Homo sapiens: one gene and its partner. The protein of the gene in region 1 binds, or shares a complex with, the protein of each later gene. Each region holds a gene or a part of one and is shown on either strand. Other genes may lie near its edges.

The links.
Region 2: the proteins of RASA1 (region 1) and ARHGAP35 are in contact, whole or in part, in a crystal structure (PDB 8DGQ), measured with the Homo sapiens proteins. Residues at the interface, in NP_002881.1 of Homo sapiens: Arg188, Arg207, Ser209, Arg211, Val217, Asn228, His229, Phe230, Arg231, Ile241, Gly242, Tyr256, Leu262, Leu263, Lys264, Lys358, Ser379, Asp380, Asn381, Ser387, Gln397, Arg398, Phe399, Lys400, Met411, Gly412, Gly413, Arg414, His425, Tyr426; in NP_004482.4 of Homo sapiens: Ser1085, Asp1086, Tyr1087, Ala1088, Glu1089, Pro1090, Met1091, Asp1092, Ala1093, Val1094, Val1095, Arg1098, Glu1100, Asn1103, Ile1104, Tyr1105, Ser1106, Val1107, Pro1108, His1109.

What each region holds. Positions count from the first base shown.
Region 1 is NC_000005.10:87,264,035-87,270,889, reverse strand, and holds the start of RASA1 (ras GTPase-activating protein 1), read right to left. Parts: upstream 3,008-6,855; 5' UTR 2,439-3,007; coding exon 1,900-2,438; exon of another isoform or gene 1,843-1,899; coding exon of another isoform or gene 1,835-1,842; intron 1-1,834. UniProt on the Homo sapiens protein: Inhibitory regulator of the Ras-cyclic AMP pathway. Stimulates the GTPase of normal but not oncogenic Ras p21; this stimulation may be further increased in the presence of NCK1.
Region 2 is NC_000019.10:46,996,992-47,004,015, reverse strand, and holds part of ARHGAP35 (rho GTPase-activating protein 35), read right to left. Parts: intron 6,520-7,024; exon of another isoform or gene 6,258-6,519; intron 4,713-6,257; coding exon 4,607-4,712; intron 4,190-4,606; coding exon of another isoform or gene 4,084-4,189; exon of another isoform or gene 3,943-4,083; intron 3,686-3,942; coding exon 3,328-3,685; 3' UTR 1-3,327.

The DNA.
Region 1 (6,855 bases):
CAAACTCTGACGAAAGACTTGAATCCTTTATTGAGGAATATAAAAAGTGGAATACTACATCCCGTTGGCTGGCATAAATATGACTAACTTTACTTTTCCCCTTTAAGTATCAAAAGATGTAGCCTTAAGTCAAAAATGGATTAGGGTAACAGAATCTTTTCCTAATTAGTTTCAGAACTTTCTAAATGCTCCAAAGAAGCTTATCCAAAAAAAAAAAAAAAAAAAAAAAAAAAAAAAAAAAAAGGCCGGGCACCGTGGCTTACGGCTGTAATCCCACCACTTTGGGAGGCTGAGGCCGGCGGATCACCTGAGGTCAGGAGTTCGACATCAGTTTGGCCATATGGCGAAATTTCGTCTCTATTAAAAATACAAAAATTAGCCAGACATGGTGGCATGCGCCTGTAATCCCAGCTACTAGAGAGGCTGAAGCAGGAGAATCTCTTGAACCCGGGAGGCGGAGGTTGCAGTGAGCCGAGATCACGCCACTGCACTCCAGCCTGGGCAACAAGGCGAGACTCCATCTCTGGGGTGGGGGGAAGGAAAAAAAAAAAAACCTCTGAATTGTCCAGAGTGACTGTCAACATATGAACCAAATCTTTTTTTCTTGATATTCAACAAAGTTGTCAAAATTCTTTTTTTTTTTTTTTTGAGACAGAGTCTCGCTCTGTCACCCAGGCTGGAGTGCAGCGGCACGATCTCGGCTCACTGCAACCTCCGCCTCCTGGGTTCAAGCGATTCTTCTGCCTCAGCCTCCCAAGTAGCTAGGATTATAGGCGCGTGCCACCGCGTCCGGCTTATTTTTGTATTTTTAGTAGAGACAGGGTTTCACCAGGTTGGCCAGGTTGGTCTCGAACTCCTGACCTCAGGTGATCCGCCCACCTCAGCCTCTCAAAGTGCTGGGATTACAGGTGTGAGCCACTGCGCCCGGCCGGTTGTTAAAATTCTAAGGGTCAATTAAGGGTTATATGAGAAATCTATAACAAGTTTTGCCTAATAACACTTCCCATCTCAACATTTTCATCAAGGTCCACCTTTAAGAATAAACACCTAAGTTCAATTAAGACAAGTGAGGAGGAGGTATTAACTTACATTTTAAAAAAGTCATTGTCCTGTATATTTTACAGACTGTAAAACTTAATTTTTAAATAGAATACTATACTGGCCACCAACAAAAAATGTTTAAGGGAAGCTCTATTGATTTTGTTTTGCCTCACTGTTGTACTTCCAAAGTCTCCACTATAAAAGCAGTGCGTTAATATTAAGTGGCAAGCCTATGGAAGAAGATACATTGTTGGAATATAGGCTCTTAATCACACCTATAATACACAGGATTCCTTTCCTTTCTCTCTGACCCAAGTTCTCATTAAGTGACCCAAAGACTCTTCTGCATCACTATGCTTTCTCTAATCAGAAGCTGGGCTGTGCACTGAAATAAAAACATTCTAACCAATACATTTTTCAAATTATTACTATAGTACTCGTTTAAACACCTGTATTCAAAGCTTCTCACTAATCATCTAGCTTTATCAAGTAACACACACAAGTTAATATACACTATGACTGCCTTGGTAGCCGCAGTTTGACTAAATTCTGGGACACCACCTCAACTTGGAAGGGACAGAACTATATCCGGTTCTCATTAGATACACATTTTCTCATGCTTTCCATCTTAAAGACTTTACACTTTCCCAGAGGAGCAATAAATGTAGGAAGACGCCAGGTAGTATGCCTGTAAGGAAGATAAGTGATCAGATTAAATTCCTACCCAAGAAACCTGAAACTTCAAAAACTTTTCCTAACAAACCACAGATGAAAAGGACAAAGTATGATTTACCCCTTCATTTCCACTTCTTTTCTGGAGCCAGCTTCCCAAATTCCTGAACAGCAGTCTTAACTTACTGGTTAGTTGGAGGAGCGGTCAACGGTATGGCCACCTCTTCCTCCTCGTATTCTGGTCCATCCAGAGAGTCACCTTCGTCCACTGTCCCGAGGCCCGCCCCCAAAGGGGGCAGGTAAGGGGGAGGGGGCAGAGGGGGAAAACCGCCGCCTGGCCCGAGAGTCTCAGCAAGCAACGAAGTGGGCAGTTTGGTGAGAGCCATGTCTCCACTAGGTCCAGCAACAGCAGCACCGGCCACGCCAGCAGCAGCACCAGCTACGCCAGCAGCAGTACCTCCCCCTGTCAGTCCAGCTCCCCCCAGTGCCCCTGCCACAGACCCGGCTCCTAGGAACTCTGACCCCAAAGCGGCTCCGCCACCCAGAGTTCCAGCCACTCCGGTCTCCACCAGCCCAGGATAGGGGGCGGCTGCCACAGGCAGGGCCGCGGGTATCTTCACCCGACACACTGCGGGATAGGCACTGGAGCCCGCTGCCGCGCCGCCTCCTCCAGCTCCGGCTGTTACCGGGCCGCCCTCCTCACTGCCGGCCTCGGCCGCCATCATGTTGAAGCCCGCTCTACTCTGCCCTACCCTGCCCGCCCGGGAGCCCCAGGGGCCACCAGGCCCGGGCTCCGAGCAGCCCCACCCAGACGCGTCTCCCCTTCAGCTCCCCAGGCTGAGGAAACAACAACAAAAGGAGAGAGCCCGCCGCCGCGCCCCCTCCTAGGGCCACAGCCCAGGCTCCCCAGCTGCCTGGGTTACGGGAAGCCAAGTGGGCAAAAAACCCAACGCCTGCACAAACGCCACCCAAACCTCACCGCACACACCCACACTCACGCACACAAACACATGTACAGAAGCGAAAACTTCCTCGCTGCACTAAAGAGGAAAGGAAGCACAGGGAAAGAGGCTGAGGCTGCTACCGCTCCTTCAGCCGCCACCACCGCTTCTTCACCACCCCAGTTCCGGCCACCCACACCGCAGCCACCGCCGGTGCCGCTGCTGAGGCTGGGGCCACTGCAGCCGCTTCATCCTCCACCAGGCAGATGAGAGGGGTGGGGGGGCAAGAGAAAGGGGGGCGGGGTAACGAGGAAATCGACTGAACTGCTCACTACCTGGAGCTCTCAGTGAGTGAAACGGGAGAGAGAGAAAGGAAGGCGGGGCAGGGGAGGAGGGACGGAGGGAAGGAAGGGCGGAGAAGGGAGAGGGCAGCTTGTGCGCAGGCGCGTTCCCGGAGCGGGGGCGGGGGGCCGGGCCGGGAGGAAAAGGAAGAGTCCAGAGGGAAGGAAGCGGCGGGGACGCGCGGTGCGTGGTCGCGCTTGCTGTCCTCCTCCGGTTCCAAGCGTGTGGCGGCGCGGCCGCATCTCCTGTTGGCGTGGCCGGCGGCGCGCGCCTGTCTCCCGGGGCTTTGTTTGATGGGCGGGAGAAGAGGGAAGGGTACCTGAGCACGCGGGTGCTTGGCGCTGTTAAAGCCGGAGAGACCAGAGGGGGACCAGGAGGCGGTGGAGAGGAAGGAGGGGGAAAGGGAAAGGAAAATGCCCAGAAACTAGTTCCGTACTTCCTGACCAGTGGAAAAAACAGCCTTAACCAGCAGCGCAGAAACCGGGCAGGGGTCAGGTAGCTTTGAAGATCGGGGCAGTACTATTAATGTTTTCTTTTTCGTTGCATGCTATAAATCACTATGACTATCTCACACACACACAGTTAAAATAGATTCTGAAACTCCAAAACGAAATAAAGGGCACCATATGAGAAGGGTGAAGAATTTGAGTAGAAATAGTGGTTATGAAGTAAGATTTCTACCAGTATTTGCATACGTTTTTCTTTATCAACTGTCTCATATACTTACCTATGCCATTATAAGTCTGTTGGATACTGATGAAGAGGAGGAGGTGCCACAGAAAACACTAATCAATGCACTTTTGTCCTGGTTTGTGTGCAAAAGACTGCAGGACGTGATCCACAATGCAAGCACCTTCAACAAGTCAAATGTCAAGAATGTCCCAGAATGCTAGTTATAATTATATATCGTTTCAAAAGTAGCAATAAACTGAAAACTCATTTTTAATACAATTAAGGAGAAGGGTGTTATTTTGTCTTTTACACTAAAATGTATACAAACTATGCATTCATGTAGAGGGAGCTTCCCATGGTTTGAAATTAACAATATTGTTAAATTCTCCCAGGAGTGATCCCACATTAAATACCATTGGATATTGATCTTTGAGATCAATATTTTCTGTGCTAAGGATGATCAAACTAACACTCAGGATGGCAAGTGGCTGTGATAGAAACCCAGGAAAAAGAGAAAAGACCACTAAAAGACGTGACAAGATACAGGCAATGCATTGCCTTTGTAAGTTTGCACAGGCCTATTTACCTAGTCAATGACAACAATCCAACTTGATTAGGAGTAGTCCTGGGGCCTCCATTACGCATATCTCTTAGCAGTGTGCTACCTGGGAGAAGGAAGATGGACCAGTCACAGGAGCTAGAGTTCTCAAAGTGAATTCAGGCCGCAACATCCTAGGAATTCAGAAATGCCACCTCAGACCTTCTGAATCAGAAAATATGCAGCGATCCATTTTAACAAACCCTCCAAGTGATTGTTTGCACACTTAAGTTTGAGAACCACTATATTAATGTATAGTATACTAATCAAGAAGGAGGTATGCAATACCTAAAAACGGTTCTGAAAGAAATAATAAATGTCATTCATTAGGTGGGTAGGTAAAATAGGCGGGTTTTGAGTTGCCAAGCTCTGTGCTGTTCTAGAAATGAGAATGAAGTAGTTCCATAATACTTAATAATGAAGTACTACTTATGGTGGCCTCCCTGAGAACAGTTTTCTTTTAAACTTAGACCCTCAGTTAGACAAGACTATCAAAATACCTACTCTACTTACTGTCTGCTGTGTGAACACCAAGTGCAACAATCCCAACAAATCTTAATATAGCCTGTGCTTGAAAACCTCCAGTGTGTTAGCATCCCAATCCTCCAACATTCCTGTCCCAGTCACCACTGTCAGCCCTTGAATGCAGGACATTGAACTGGCAGGTTATCACCGGCTCTTGGTTATCACTGATTTCTAAATGTTCACACACCCTCTGTATGTTGCCTGGGAGTCCAGGTGAGGCTCACTACTCTTACTGCAGAATTACCTCCTCCTTTTTGACAATTCTTTAGCACTTGTAAAGGTCAATATTTAATGCAGTCTAACACCTATCAAATGCTCAATTAAATGTTTTCTAGACTTTTAGGTGTATGTACCTACAAAACTGTACTGCAAATACAACCTGTGGTCTATTCTACTGCCTAGCCCAGTCCTAGGCAACCTCAGTATGCTACTTTGAACAGATCTTCATCCTTTTAACAAATACCAAATTTGATCAGCTCCCATCTTTGGAAATCAATTTCTTAACCAGTAGGAAATAACTACTATGTCTATTTGTAAATCAGCCTTATACCAATATCTTACCTAGTTTTTGTTTAGCCTTAGAGTTAGCCCTGTTCTTTTCCTCCAAAGAAATTGCCACATATTTTTATGAGGTATTTTCAGATATTTAATATATTCCTATTATTGGATAGATCTAGGCTCTAATCTTTACTATTGCTTGTGTACTTTCTGAATCTCAAATACGTTGTCTATCTTTATTTTCATTTTTTCCAAAAGGATTTAATGTTTCTACTTAATTTTTGTCCATTGCCTTTCTTTTCTACCCACCTTAACTTTCTGCCCAGTTAACAAAGGGAAGTAAACTATCTTAATTAAATTCACAGATATTAAACAGGGAGGTATTGAAAAACAGAATAGTACACAAAAGAAAGAAAATTCAAAATATATTTTACCTTTAGTAAAATAAGCTATTATATCTGTGATTTTAGAAAAGTTACTCTGGATCTTGAAACATAGTATTTAATGAAGACTAAATAATAAAAAGTGCTGGACAAAAACTTGTGTATGAAAAGAAACTGAAAATTTAAGAAATGAAGTTGGCTCATTCTGGTTTCATTGGCAACTGAAATATGAATGTGGCCGGGTGCGGTGGCTCACGCCTGTAATCCTAGCACTTTGGAAGGCCGAGGCGGGCAGATCACAAGGTCAGGAGATCGAGACAATCCTGGCTAACACTCCAGCCTGGGTGACAGAGCAAGACTCTGTCTCAAAAAAAAAAAAAAGAAAAAGAAATATGAATGTACTACGTTCCAAAATATTTTATAGTTTTGATATCTTGAGTATGTGGAAAGGTAATTCTAACTCAGTAACATAACTGTAATTTTAGAGGACCTTAGAGCATAGGTAAGAATAGTTTCTGATGGGAGGACTAACCAAGAAGTAATAAAGAGCTTACTGCTGTGTTTGAAGAATGCCAAATTGTGTTCCATGCCCTAGTACATATTGAGTTACACAAATAGCCTTCCAAATTTACCTAAATAGTATCAAAAGGTTTCATTGACCCAATAATTTTGAAAGAAAGCCTTTACTTCTAACCCTAATGTCCCCACTGCATTTATTGACTTTATCTTAAAACCCTCCAGAGCACAAATTTTTTTATTACAAAGATCTTATGAGAAAATAACATCGAGGAGATACAGGTTAAAGGAAATACTTTGATGAAAAGGCAAATAACTCTGCAGAGATTACAATATGTGGTATAATAACTAAGATTTATGAAAATTATAAATACCATAGAGAAATTGAAGAACTGTGTGATGATCTCTGAGGCTGTAAAATAAATTACAAGGTAAATTATCCAGAGCTCTCTCAAAACATTCAAACCAATATATGAGTAAAGAAGATTAGAACAGTTAGATCTAAATATCTCTTAAAATATAAAATAATAGAAAAATATATTTTTTTTTTTTACTTTATTCCTATTTTGTCTTTATATTGCAGATACTTCATTATTTTTTGTCAGAACCTTTCCTCCTTCATGATTTCTAGTCTCTTTTTCTTTACCTATTATTTTACTCTGACCAG
Region 2 (7,024 bases), on another chromosome or scaffold:
GGAGGGGGGCGCAGCTGAGGTGACTCTTGATGACAAGTCACTGCAGCTGGCCTGCTGTGAAGTTTTGTGTGTGTGTGTGTGTGTGTGTGTGTGTGTGCGTGTCCAGAATGCCTGGTGGCCTGCGGGGGTCTTTACCAAGGGGATGCTGGCTTGACCCAGGCCTCCTTTCCCTAAGAGCAGCAGGAGCTGAGTGAGGCACAGGGATGCCCCCATCCCCTTCTGGCCAGCGAGCTGCTCCTATGATGTCACCCTCTGTCCACCGTGACAAAGACAGACACATCCTGCAGAAGAATCTGGGTCGCAGCAGGTGCCCTGCCTCCAGCAGGAAGCAAAACCAAGGCGGTGGAGGCAGGAGAGCACGGAGACAGACGCCCCGAAGCTCTCTCCCTGTTCCTCCCCAAACGCTAGGCGATGGGAAAGACGGGGACAATGCAGAGTAAATGTGTGCCGTGACACCCAGTATGCGACACAAGCCAAGAATTCTAAGTGGATTCACGAGCCACGCCACCCAGCCTTGGGTCTTCCCTCTTCAGCCGTCAGAGCCAGGATCAGTCTCTGGCTTTGCACCAAGGGCTGCTGTCCCCTCACACGGTGTCTGCGCTCTCGCTGGGCAGGGGTGGCTGCCCCACGTCCCCATTCTGGACAAGCCAACGCCCTCCCACCCAGTGCTGAGAGCTGCATGCGAGTCCCATGAGCACCCTCTGTGCACACACCTTCCAGAACTTAGAGCCCCAACAAAAGCGGGAGTGGGGGCAGCATGGTCCCAACAATCCCCAGGGACGCTCCTCTGTGGCTCCCATGCAAGTGCCCATTTGGGCTGCACGCTTCCCTGACCGGACGCTGAAGGCCGGCCTGCCACGACTGGCCATGCCCCTCAAACGACCGAGATGTCCTCTAGTCCCTCAGCCCGGAGCAGCAGATGAGAGGCTGAAGTTAGCGGGGGAAACAAGAGGAACCCTGTGGCTTCCTGTGCATGGGGGCTCCCTTTGGACATAAGCTGCCACAGTCCCTGCCTGCCCACCTTGGCTGACAAGGCGCTGCATTGGGAGTGCCCCAGACCTAGTTTCAGGTACTTCTGTGAGGAGAGGGGTAGAGAGCCCAGGTGCTCCTCCTCACCACCCCCTCCACACTCCTGGGGAAGTCACTGGCCGCACATACATCTGTGGAATCGGGCCAGGTGGCTTGGGACGTGGCTTTTGTGCTCACACAAAAGAGGTGGCAGTGTTAGCTCAAGCAGTGAGGGGGACTGGGCTGCTTTTGCCTGCGTTCACACAGGGACGGCCCAGGGCACCACCATGCTTTCCCTCCACCCCCAATTACGTGAGGAGCTGACCAGGTGAGCATAACCTCGAAAAGGGGGCGGGGTCAGTAAATGGGGCCGTTTCCTCATCTGCTGGGGTCCAGGGCTGGGGGAGTTTGGGAACGTTTCTGCCAACCTCAGCTAAAACGAAACACAGATGTCACCTTCCAGCCAACCCTGGGCCTACAGGGCCAGGCACAGCTCCACCAGAAGAGACAAAAATTCATCATCCAACATTCACAGAAAACACGCCTGAACCCTGGGTTTGTTCTCCGATTTGTGTTCCTCAAAAGGCGGTAAAACTTGCAAGGTTAGGTGTTTCCAAGCACCTTCGTTGGCCATTGAGAACTGGAGACAGTGAGCCAGCCGTCCCCAGAGGGAGCTCGGGAGCCGAAGGGCCACTCCCGTCTCCAACCACTGCAGGCGGGCACGGGCAGGGCAGCTGCAGACGCCCGGGAAAGGTGTCCATCAGGCCCCCTGGAATACACCACAGATCCTATTTCTTAAAGTGCAACGAGCCCCAAGGGCTGTCTGGCATGGGGCCCTCTGCACCCCACTAGCTCTCGCCTGGGGGGTGCCTAGTGTCAGGCTTCCTGGCCGCAGAGGCCACAGCCCAGCCATGCAAGTTTGAGGTGCTGGGGGGCAGAGGTGGCCAGGAGAAGAGCTTTTCCTGGGGCAGTGGGAAGGCTGGGCTAGGGTGGTGGTGGATGATATGCAGGCACAGCGCCTCTGGGTCAGCGAAGACCAGGAAGGATGCCCCTTCGAGGGCACCAGCAGACCGCCATTCCTTCAAAGTGCCCCACCTCGCCCACATCCCCATGAACACTCCTGCTGGTGGCCTCCATGGCTGGGATGAAACGATTCCACTTCAACACCCAACACACCAACCCCAACCCCAAGTGCACCTGGCACCTTCCAGCTGTCCCCAACCCCCCACCAAGCGCCCACACACACTCACACTCACATGTGCACACACACCCCCACCCCACGCACATGCTCAATTAGTGTTTCTATCGTAATGGACTGTGTTCTGGGGCAGCCCAGGTTCCAGCCTGCACTGCCATCTCCCCAGCTGTCCCCACCAAGGGCTCGAACCCTCTTCTTGGGAAAACGGGGGATCTAGCGACTAGACCTAAGTGGGTGAGTGGGACCCCAGCAGGCCCTCAGGCCACAGCTCCAGGCATCCTGGTTTTGCTGCCACAAAGACGAGGGTCAGCTCCACCTGTGTGCCTCCCTCCCTCCCGGCAGAGGCGGGCACAGAGTGGAATCTTGAGGTCTGTAGTTTTCTTTCTGTGGTTTCTTCCTTTTTAATTACTGGAAGGGTTTTTCCATTTTTTCTCCTAGTGTTCCTTTGTTTGCCAGGGAATGTTTCGGGAAGGCTGTGGAGTGGGACGGTGGGGATGAAGCGGGGAGTCCCACACTCTCTGGGTCCAGGCACAAAGCTATCCTCCGTTGTTCTGATCTGCAGAGCCAGCGCCCTCAGCAGGTACCTAGTGGTGGCAGAGCCGTGGCCTACACGTTCCCAAGGAGGCCGCCAGCCGGGCTGTACCCTTACCTTGGGGGTGTGTGCAGATGGAAGGTGGGAAGAGACAGACCAACAGGAAGTGTTCTCTTCAGGGGTTGCCAGCCCCACCCTGAATCTCAGAGCATCCTCCTCCCCGGCAAAGGCCAGGGCACTGTCCCGACCATGGGCTCTGTACAAGCAGAGGGAGGCACCCGGAGGCTGGTGTGAGCAGCTACGTGGGGTGGTGGTCCAGGGAACAGAGGGAGGGCACTGGAGCCATTGCCTGCCTAGTTCAGTCCTCAAATGGGTCCAAGCCAGCTCAGGTCTGCAGCGCCAGGCCCAGGGTACCTGGCAGCCCAGCCGATGGTACCATTGGCTGGTGCTCCCACTGAGGTCTTGAGAAGGTAATGGGGAGAGCCACTTGCCCCTGCCTCTGTCCCCAGTGGACTTGGTTTTGTTCAAGGCCAAATGCCACCCCGTCAGAGAGAGGACCGGTTCTCCTGTCGCCCCAGGTCTTGGTGGCTCACAGCGTGTGTTCGGCTTGAAGCTGGGAGGGAAGCAGTGGCTGCATTGGGGACTGGGGGGTGGGTGGAGGCGACTGTGGGGGCGACGGCTGACTTGTGACAGGCGTGGAAGTGAGGAAGGGGACGGTGGAAGCCACGGCAGAGGGGGAGCTGGGCCTGGCGCCGGGGGGCTCGGTGATGGGCCGATTGTAGAAGAAGAAGGGGCACTGCTGGATAAAGAGTTCAATGATTGTCTGGTAGGTGCGCGTGGCTGTGAGGGCGTCCATAGTGCTGAAATCAGGTCTCATCAAGGTGGGCCAGAAGCAGATGGAGAGGTTCTCGCTGGTCATGAGATTCACCTTGTTGTTGTGGCTGACCCTGCGGGCGACACCAAACTCAATGGTCAGAACTGTGCAGGGCCCCACCTGGCCCTGGGCGCTCATGGTCTTCAGCACCCAGGCTGAGCCCACCTTTCTTCCCTCAGGTGGAGCAGAAAAGGCCATGCGCAGCTCTCTGTACCCTGCCCTGCCTGGGAGGCTGCGCCCTCAGTGTCCTCTCCCCTCCAGCCCAGTGCCTCTACATGGCCAACCTCGGAAAGGCTGCCTGGAGCCCCGCAAACCCCTGGGGGTGGATGGACCACCTCAGGGACTCACTCTGCAGCCAGCCAAAGCAGTGGCGGTGCTCCGGCTGTGACGAGGGAGGGAGGCTGAGTGTCCTAAGCCAGAGCGCCATCAGAGGCCACTCGGCCAGCAGATCTCCTCCACACACATGGAACTTCAGGGAACAACCATACGGCCTCCCGCCTGCGGCTGTGCTCCATGCCGGAGGCTGGCTGTCTCCTGCAGCACATCTCTCGAGGTGCAGTGTCCCGGTTCTCCCCAGCTGGGAACGTGAATGCTGTGAGAGGACTTTCAGGGACTCTGAGGTGTTTTTGATTCAGGAGAAGATTTCTGGAGCATCAGTACCAACCAGAAGATCTTCTCTCTCTGCCAGCTTTGGGACACAGGCCTACAAGAGGCCCCATGCCCGCTGGAGCTAAGTGCCCTATCTGGTGTTAGGCAGGTTTGAGGCCACGTGGGCTGCCCTCAGACAGGAGCAGGAGGGAGGCCTGAGGATGGGCGAGAGGCAGAGGCTCTGGGCACCGAGACCAGCGGGCACCATGGGAGGCCAGCCAGCACCCCTTCCAGGCCAGGGCCTGAGGCTTCTACTGGCTTGTGGACAGAGCCTTGTTCTGCGACACACTGACCCTGGCTGTCAATTTTCAGGAGGAAAAACCAACCAGAAGGCCCTGCGACTTACTTGTTTAGGTGAGAGATGACATACTTGAAGACTTCGTGGTTTTCCTTTGGAAATTTCTTTAATACCTCCTTAAGGGCATGCAACTTCTGCTCCCGGTCGTTGATTTCTGAGGAGAGAGAAAACCAAAGCCTTGCCTTTCATGGCCGAGGCTGGTGGCCACCCCAGGGCGTGCTCTGTGATGGGCCTTCTCTGAGGACAGCCCAGGGCTTTTGGATGACACTAACCCCACTCTTTCCCCCAAAGCCTGTGCCCAAGGCTGGCACACCTGGCAGTGGCACTGGCCCAGGGGTCTGGCCCACCTCTGTGTCCCAGGCCCCCGCTGAAGGGCGGCACTGTGTGCCTGGGGCTTCCTGGCCCCCACCACCCAAGACAGAACAATCTGGAGACACTCCGCCATAAAGAACACCATTCTTTGCTCATCCGGTTGCCCCTGGAGACAGGCATCCCTACGCAGAAAGCCTGCTTGCTTCCTGACCAGATGGAGACGGGCGGCCGCTGCCACCCACCCACGCCAACAGGCCTTCGAGGGAGGGAGTCAGTCGGTCATGAGACCAAGGCTCTGTCCTTTTCCTAGAGACACAGGGACCGTCCACACATCCCCGTTGGAGGGGCTGATGGAAACAGTGGGGGAATTCTTATGCACTTCACCAAAGGAACTACGCACCCCCTTTTCCCCCAACGCCCACACTTTGCCTATCATGGAATCCTAATGTCCTGGGGGAGGGAAAACAACTGCCTGGAATGCAGCTTGTAACCCGCGCCAGGCCCAGTTCCATGAGTCCCCACAATCGTGTGAGGCAGGAACTCGTCACCCCATTTTGAGGATGAAGTATCTGAGTTTAGAAGTTGCAGAGCTGGGACTGGCTGTGGGGCCTGAGCTGTGGCCACTGGGCTTGCCATCCCCGAGTGGGTGTGGCCCACCTTGACTGGGAAGGGCATCGGGGCTGGTGAGGCACAAACGTCCCAGAGCCCACCTGGAGCCCAGCTGGCTAAGACAGATTTCTCTGTGCAGGGAAAGATGCCCCCATGTTTCCTTCGTGGACTCCAGGGCTCAGAAGAACCACAGGAGGGTCTCACGAAGGAGATGGCAGCGACCTCACAGCTGGCGGCTGTGGGGGTGGTGAAGAGAGGCCTGTTAAAGCGCAGATGATTGCTAATGGGCCCGGGGGCTCGGGCTCCTTTGGGATAGATGATGGTGCCAGACCGTCTCGGCCGGAGACATATGTGTGCCATTCTGCTGATGAATCCGGGAGGGGTGCGGACTCCCTGAACCAAGTATTCTTTTCTTTCTTTTTTCTTTTTTTTTTTGAGACGGAGTCTCACTCTGTCACCCAGGCTGGAGTGCAGTGGTGCGATGTCGGCTCACTGCAAGCTCCGCCTCCTGAGTTCACACCATTCTCCTGCCTCAGCCTCCCAAGTAGCTGGGATTACAGGTGCCCGCCACCACGCCGGCTAATTTTTTCGTATTTTTAGTAGAGACGGGGTTTCACCGTGTTAGCTAGGATGGTCTCGATCTCCTGACCTCGTGATCCACCCACCTGAGCCTCCCAAAGTGCTGGGATTACAGGCGTGAGTCACCGCGCCCAGCCCTGAAGCAAGCATTCTTTGGGAAACCCATAGCTTCCTAGTCACCTTGCAGCAGGTGACGTACCCAGAGGGTCAGAGTTGGGGGAGTTGCACAAGCACCCTGGTGAGAGTGAGACTTGGAAGAGCAGACAGAATGCCAATGACGGGCACGCTGAGCAGGGAGGAAGGTCCTGTGGTGGTCTGGAGTCCAGATCCTGACTCAGATGGCCCTGGTACAAATCCGGCCTCTCGCGTCAACCGTGTCACCTTGGGCAAGTGACACCTTAGGGTGAGTCTCCTTGTCTGTAAAAGGGGCTGTGGACAGTGCCTCCTTCATTCGGTGACACCTGGCAATTAAATGAAGAGTTCACAGCTGGACACAAAATAAGGGCACCTGGGAGCCAGTCTACTCGCAGGAGCCTGTGGGGAAGGGAGGCCGCAGGGCTGGAAGGGACAGAGCTCCAGGAGCTCTCCCGGGCAGCCTAATGAGGAGGAATGAAACCTGGCAAATCTGTGGCCTTGAGAGTGTGACTTGATAAGAGCAGTGTCTTGGTAACATCTGTCTATCAGAAATGACTAAAAAAGTCCTGGGAGCTAGTTATTGGGCTATGAGCAGCTTCATCTCTCTGAATCCAAGGTTTATTTTAAGGGTTCCACCTCAAGGGCACTTTCTTTTTTTCTTTTTTTGAAATGGAGTCTCGCTCTGTTGCCCAGGCTGGAGTGCAGTGGCGTGATCTCAGCTCACTGCAACCTCTGCCTCCCAGGTTTAAGCGATTCTCCTGCCTCAGCCTCCCAAGTAGCTGGGATTACAGGTGCCCACCACCACGCCTGCTAATTTTTGTATTTTTACTA